Homo sapiens: one gene and its partner. The protein of the gene in region 1 purifies or fractionates together with the protein of each later gene. This does not show direct contact. Each region holds a gene or a part of one and is shown on either strand. Other genes may lie near its edges.

The links. The genes of interacting proteins can lie anywhere in the genome.
Region 2: the proteins of RNGTT (region 1) and PPP4R3A purify together in Homo sapiens (affinity purification with mass spectrometry; 3 studies listed by BioGRID and IntAct, with this or other methods). This does not show direct contact.

Annotation. Positions count from the first base shown.
Region 1 is NC_000006.12:88,851,835-88,855,783, forward strand, and holds part of RNGTT (mRNA-capping enzyme), read right to left. Parts: intron 1,931-3,949; coding exon 1,795-1,930; intron 1-1,794.
Region 2 is NC_000014.9:91,508,560-91,512,159, reverse strand, and holds the start of PPP4R3A (serine/threonine-protein phosphatase 4 regulatory subunit 3A), read left to right. Parts: upstream 1-1,849; 5' UTR 1,850-2,512; coding exon 2,513-2,654; intron 2,655-3,600. UniProt on the Homo sapiens protein: Regulatory subunit of serine/threonine-protein phosphatase 4. May regulate the activity of PPP4C at centrosomal microtubule organizing centers.

The sequences.
Region 1 (3,949 bases):
TTGACATCATGAATCATACTGCTATTTTTAAAACTTCACAAGAATCTATTATGCCGCTCTCAGTTATCCAAGTTTGAGGTGAAATAAATAGTATTGCTAAGTTAAATCTGTAGATGGTTAAATATCTAATTTTTAAGCATTATTTCCTACCTAGAATGCCCTCAGCCCACGTCCATCAAAAATCTTTCTATAGAAATCTTTCTGTTTCTAATGCCAACTCCTACACAAAACATATTTAGTTCCTAACTAACTAGATGTGATTTATTTCTCCTCTAAACTACCTCAGGACTTAAATACCTCTCTTTGGGTTATTGTTTTATTCAAAGGTCTCTTCCATCATTACCATTCATTCTCCACCCTGCTCAATTAAGCAAAATGTTTCAAGGGTGAGGCCTTCTCCTCAACCCTCTAAGCAATACCCGTACTCTTGGTATAGCAACTCATAATAGGCACTCAACAAACATTAGTTCAATTATAAACTATACTAAACTTTGACAAATGCTATTACTTAAGTCTTTTCCTTTCTTATATTTTATTAATTATAATGCTAAAAAAAGTACCTTAAATAAAGATAACAAAAACTAAAATGTTCCTGCTGTTCCCATGAACCAACTACCAGAGCTGCCACAAATGACTATGACTTTTATGTACTATACAACCCCAAGGGTACCAGTCACATTAACTATGATAGTTAAATCTATACACATATAGATACATATACATGTACATATGTATATATATATCATTTTTATTAGAAAGTGGTATTTTGTTACTCATGCTGTCACAGGAATGAAAATTTACTAGATACAGGAAAAAATACAAAAATCAAAATGTCCAACAAAAGGGAACTGGTTAAATAAATTACAGAACTATTTCTCAAACTTGCCTAATTACAATCACTTGGTCACTTGTACGGACATGTAGGCCCCTGGGAGATTCCAATTCATATGGTCTAGGATATGCTATTGGAAAGGGTCATATTTTAAACAAGCAATTTTTTAACCCTACAATTTTCACAGTCAAGATAGTTTGGAAACCCCAATTTATGGTCTCTATATACACAATGGTAAACCATTCAGACATTTATGTGAAAAAGATGTCCAAAACACATTGCTAAGTGTGGGGAAAAAGACAAGTTACTAACCACATGTAACATATGTTTCTCTTCATGCAAAATTATATAACTATCCATATGTATACATATTTGACCAGAGCACTCATTTAACACCCTTTACATATCTTTAACAAATTTCTCCACCAAAGAAAATATCTCAAAGTCTTACTTATGCTCAAAGATTCAGTTGGCAGATCTCTCTTTAAGAGGACCTTAATTCAATATAAGTATACATAAGAAATAAATGAAATTTAACATCCTAATAAAAGTTAGATTTGGCTGGGCGCAGTGGCTCATGCCTGTAATCCCAGCACTCTGGGAGGCTGAGGCGGGTGGATCACGAGGTCAGGAGTTCAAGACCAGCCTGACCAACATGTGAAACACCTTCTCTACTAAAAATCCAAAAATTAGCCGGGCGTGGTGGCACATGCCTGTAATCCCAGCTACTGGGGAGGCTAAGGCAGGAGAATCACTTGAACCCAGGAGGCAAAGGTTGCAGTGAACCGAGATCCCGCCACTGCACTCCAGCCTGGGCGACAGAGCGAGACTCCGTCTCAAAAAAAAAAAAAAAAAAGTTAGATTTCATTCGAAATTTCTTAACCAACAGAAATACACATTTACTTACAAGGAAAAGAAAAATGGCAATGTTTAATTTTATAGTATACATAAATATGACTTACGCCATCCAAGAGAGTATTTGATAAATGCATACGAAGATCTTTACGAAATGGAAATTCCAGATTTGAAACATGAAATACTGAATTGTCTCTATCAATCATAAAAACTTCATTTGTGCCATCAATCAACATCATGTACCTGTAAATGAAACATTAAAAAGCTAATATTTACAGTATAATATCAAGAACAGGGTCATGAGAAATAACATACTGGTTTTCCATAGACCTTAAACATCTGTAGACTAATGTTCACTGGAGTCTCTTTATCATGTAGATTAAAGTATCACAAATAATAATTTTTTTTTTTTTTTTGGAGACAGAGTCTTCCTCTGTTGCCCAGGCTGGATGGAGTACAGTGGCACAACCTTGGCTCACTGCAACCTCCGCCTCCCAGGTTCAAGCAATTCTTGTGCCTCAGCCTCCAGAGTAGCTGGAATTACAGGTGTGTGCCACCATGCCCAGCTAATTTGTTTGTTTTTTCTTTCTTTTTTTTAGTAGAGATGGGGTTTCACTATGTTGGTCGCGAACTCCTGGCCTCAAGTGATCTGCCCACCTCAGCCTCCCAAAGTGCTGCGATTACAGCGATGAGCCACCACGCCTAGTCCACAAATAATAATTTTTTTAACTTTTTTCATTTCCTATAGAAAACACAGAGTATAGGGAATTCTAAGTTTTTTATGGAGATAATGTGATATTCAGGAGTAACCTTATGAATCCATCCTAACAGAGAATGGTTCTCTAATTTTTATGAGATCTTAAACATTGAAGCCTTTCAAAGTTTACAAAATACACATATACACATATATAAATGTACTTTACTAGCTCAATAACTATATGGATTAGGTATTCTCTCCACTTCAAAATAGAAAAAAGCAGTGAAAAACATTAAGTGATTTGCCATTTGCCAGACTTTAAATTATCCAGTGCTCTTTCTACCATACCTGTTAGCAAAACAGCTAATCCCTCTCTTTGAATCAATATCATGATATAGCCAGGTACCACAATATCAGGTATAACTTTTCTTCTCATTTATGACTATAAAATTAAAATATTTTTAAACACAGCCATAAGATTTTCAATTATCTCTTATCTTCTTAAACTCAATCAACATATGGGGGAATTCATACACTTAACAACCTGTCATTCTTCAAATGGTTAGGTTATCATCACTGATTTCCCATCAGCAAATCAAGAATGGAGTTCTATTTCACACCACATATAAAGTCCAGATGGACTGATGTTGAAGACATTACAGTCTGGGAAGCTATGCTACCAAATGGATAATAAGAAGACTTGGGGTGAAAATGAAGATCAAATCCAAGAACCAAAGTCTTCAAAGAATGAGAAAAAATTTATAGCAAAAAAGATTAGAAAGTTAAAAGGCATAAGCCTCAAAGAAACAGAATCATTTTGTTAGGCTGTTTTTGTTTGGTGTTTGGTGTTAAATGAAAGAATGGAAGAAGAGTGGTCTGGAGGTACCAACGAAAATGAAAGAGAACACTGACCAGACTGCCCAACCTCCTACCCGCAAAGTACCTGAGGTATGTCCAAAAAAAAGGCAGCAACGACTGAAAGATGCAGCTGAATCAAGTTAAGATTAGGGGACAGAAGAAATATTACATGAAGACATGCAAGCTAACAGAGTATATGGAAGCTAATATAATAGTGGATAACTGGCTAACCACAAACCAATGTTCTGAAGAGCAAAGTACACATGTTTAGGATAGGTGAGGAGAAATAGGAGAGCTGATGAAGGGAAAACAAGTGTACAAACAAAATGGAAAAGAGCAGCATGGAAGACCAAAGGGGCTTATGTTTTTGGATTAGATTGTGAAGTATGTTGTTCTTTGCTGTTTCCAAAATAATCAGTTCCAAAAAAAAAAAAAGTGAAAAAAGAAAAAGGAAAGGAAAAAAGGCAACATAATAGAAAAAAATTTTTTTAAAGTTTTAATAATAATGATAATTAGTTCCAGCAGGTGTCTGGGGAGCAGATGGAGAGCTCAGGCCCTTGCTATAATAGCTGCAGCCCTAGTAGATGGGGAGTGTGGGGACTCAGGTTTCACTAGGAAAAATAAATTCAGCCTCAGTCTGGACTGACTGTGTATCTGAAAGACTCCTAGACCAAATGCCAGGCCAGCTGGCACACAGACAACAGGAA
Region 2 (3,600 bases), on another chromosome or scaffold:
AATTTTTAAATTTAAATTGTTATTTTATTTTATTTTTTGAGACAGAGTCTCGCTTTGTTGCCCAGGCTGGAATGCAGTGGCACAATCTCAGCTTACTGCAACCTCCGCCTCCCGGGTTCAAGGATTCTCCTGCCTCAGCTTCCCGAGTAACTGGGACTACAGGCGCACACCACCATGACCGGCTAATTTTTTTGTATTTTTGGTGAAGACGGGGTTTCACTATGTTGGCCAGGCTGGTCTTGAACTCCTTGACCACGTGAGCCACCGCGCCCAGCTAAATTTAAAAACTGATACTTGATTCAGCTTTTGGAAAACTTTTAAGTATGATTGGAATAACAGAATATGTGAATCTACATTTTCAACTGTAAATTTAATAAACTCTACCAGCCCGGGCAACAGTGAAACCCGTCTCTACCGAAAAAAAAAAATAATAACAAATTTAATTAATTAACTGGCAGTGGTGCTGCGCACCTGTGGTCCCAGCTACTTGGGAGGCTGAGATGGGAGAATCGCTTCAGCCCAGGAGGTTGAAGCTGCAGTGAGCTGAGACTGAGCCACTGCACTTCAGGATGGGTGACAGAGAGACCCTGTCTCAAAAAAAATTTTTTTTCAATAAAATCTAAACGTAGATATTTCTGATGAAAATTTAGTATCCCAACAGAGACTTGCTGGAAGGACAAAATATATCACATTTTTAAGACATTGTACGTATATCTCATTAGTAATTTGATTATTGAAATAACTTTTGAAAATACCGCACTAAAACGTTAACACTAATTTCACCAGTTTCTTCGTACTTTTTGTGGCTACTGCAAAATTTAAAGTTATGTGTGTGGCTGCATTATATTCCGAGCGGACAAGCCCGACCTGGCAAGGCCTGGCAAATGGTAAAAGCCACCAAAATGGTGGCATATGAGCTGCATGATAGGAACGAGAATGATATTCCTTTGTGAAGATCAACAATACTTGACATCAAGTAGGTCTTCAAAACACAGGACTACCTAATGCTGAGAATTACTCCTCCCGATTACACAGTGTCGCATTTGTTTTTGTGAGCGCCTTAAGTTCCTTTTCCGACAAGAAAGGCTGGCAGACAGTTCTGATAGGGATGAAGGAATGGAGCACTTGGGGCTTGCCTAGGCTGTAAGGTGAAGTTTTAGAATTGTCACTTGGAACTCGGTCCCACGCCCAGAAATCGCAAACAGTCCCAAGTTTCCACACTGGCCACGCCAGTCCGCGACCCACGGCGGCTCCCAAGGCTGCGCCGACCTAGGCGCCCACACCCGCGACCTTCCCCGGAAGCGTTTCCATTTCATTCCCTCAAGTCCGCAAGGCGCCGGGTGGGTCCCGAGCGCCCGACTCAGCCATAAAGGCGGCCCCGGGAAAACGCTCTCGGAAGCGGGTAGGGGCCCAGGCCCACGCTGCCCGGCGTCCGCAGGCCAGGGGCAGGGGCAGAGGCAGGGACGGGGCAGGAACAAGGGAAGGTGGCGGCGGGCGGAGGCGAGGCCGAAGCGCCGGGGCCCGCGGGCAGAGGCCGCAAACGTATCCACGCCCCTCGTGCATCCTGGAGCGGGGCTGATGACGAACACAGGGCGCGACGGACGCACACACCGCCCAGCGCTCGCACGACGGTGCGTGCAAGGAGGCGGGAGGGAGCCTCGGGCTGTCACCGGCGCAATCTGCGTCCCGCCTCCTCCGCTCCCTGCGCTCCCGCCACCTCGGCAACTCCGCGCCCGCCTCCCGCCTCCGTCGGAAGCCTCCGCCGCAGTAAGGCTCCCGGTCTCGCTGCTGTCTCTTTAAATGGTGGGGCTACGAGCCGCCCCTGCAGCTGCTCCCTGGGTGGCCCCGCGCGCCGCTTTTGAGGGGCGAACCAAGATGGCGGCGGTTTTGGCTGTGTGAGGAAGACGGAAGAGACGGCGGCGGAGGGAAACCGACTTCCACTAGTCCGGGTCGCTTGGGCGGCCGGGGGCCCTCAGAGTCTCCCGGGCAGTGGTAGCAGTTGCAGCAGGATCAGGCGCCTGTCGGCTTCTGACGTTTAAAACAGGGGGAGCGGAAGGGAGCCACTGGCCGCGGTGGCAGGGCCAGGTATAAGGAAGGAAAATATGGCGGCGGCGGCGGCGGCCTGAGGAGGCGGCGGCGGCGCGGGAAGCTGCTTCGCGGAGATCATGGCGGAGGCGGGAGCAGGGCAGTGACGGGAGCCCCGAGTTCCTAGCGCTGCGGGGCGGGAGGCTACGAAGCGCTGCGCGGCCCCCTCGGGGCTGCCGGGCGCCGGGCTCGCCAGGCCTGGACAATAGCGCCGGGGAGCCGGAGGCGAGGAAAGGCGGCGGCCCAGAGCTCGGTCCCTGGAGCGGGCCATGCAGGCGGCGGCGCGGCCCCGCGGCGCCCAGCGGCGGCAGTGAGGCCGGGGAGCCCTCCGCTCGCGGGCGCCCTCACGCCTCGCCCCTCGCCTCTCCAGGGCCCCTTTCCTGGGCGTCTACTGGCGGGGCCCCCGCCCCGGTTCCCGGGCGGCACGATGACCGACACCCGGCGGCGGGTGAAGGTGTACACGCTCAACGAGGACCGGCAGTGGGACGACCGGGGCACCGGGCATGTGTCGTCTGGCTACGTGGAGCGGCTGAAGGGCATGTCCCTGCTTGTCAGGGCTGAGAGCGACGGTAAGTGAAGCCCCGCGCGGCGGGACCCTCGCAGCCCCCACGGCCCTGGGCCGCCTCCCTGGTTCTTGCGGGGCATGGCGCTCGCTCCACGAGAACAGAGGGACGGCTGGGGAGGGCGGCCACCTCGGGGGAGGACGGGCCCCAGGTACCCCAGTCTTGCGGGAGCTCCCCGGAGAGCGCTTGAAATGTTTCCTTTCTCTGAGTGCCTGGTGGCATTTTGGGTACGAGGAGAGCCAAGCGTGTTTGAGCTGTGCCGCCCTGGAGTGTGGAGAGGTCGAGGACCTGAGATAGGGAGTCCGGAGTGTGCTGTTCTTTTGCACTAGAGTGACCTTGAGAAAGACACTGATTAATCCGATCTGCTGCCTTAGTTCACCCATCTGTAAAGCAGGCATGAAACTTTGCTTGGAGCTAAGAAAGTTCTTGGACCTTTCACACTTTGAAGAACGTTTTGCTGTGCTTTTTTTGTTTTTCTTTTTAAACATCTTTTTGCTACATGTTTCTGATCGTGTTGAAGCTTGGCAACACTGTATCTGGCAACTCTACACTAAGAGAAAACGCTTTCCCTTGCGAAGATTTTCGTTCACCAGTGTTGGTTGTCTTTTTTATAGTAATGCAGAATTTTGTGTGTAGCTTACTATATAAACATCTTGCAAAGTTGGAATCATATGAGCTTTTTTTGATTGCTTAAATGGGTGTTCATAATTTGGTTAACAGGTGCAGAGAAGTTGGCAGATAATTTTTAAAACCTTTCGGATCTTCCCTAGTGTTTATGCTTCACAAATTTTGAAACAGCCCTCAAGGTTCAAAGACTAAGTTGTTTGAAAATAAGTGTTTCACGTTTTTTCTTTTTTCCACATGTGCTGTTTCATATTTTAAAAGGCTTATTCTCTGTAGGGATTGCCACTGTTTTTGGCGATATACAGTGAATTTCACTTAAAATACTCAA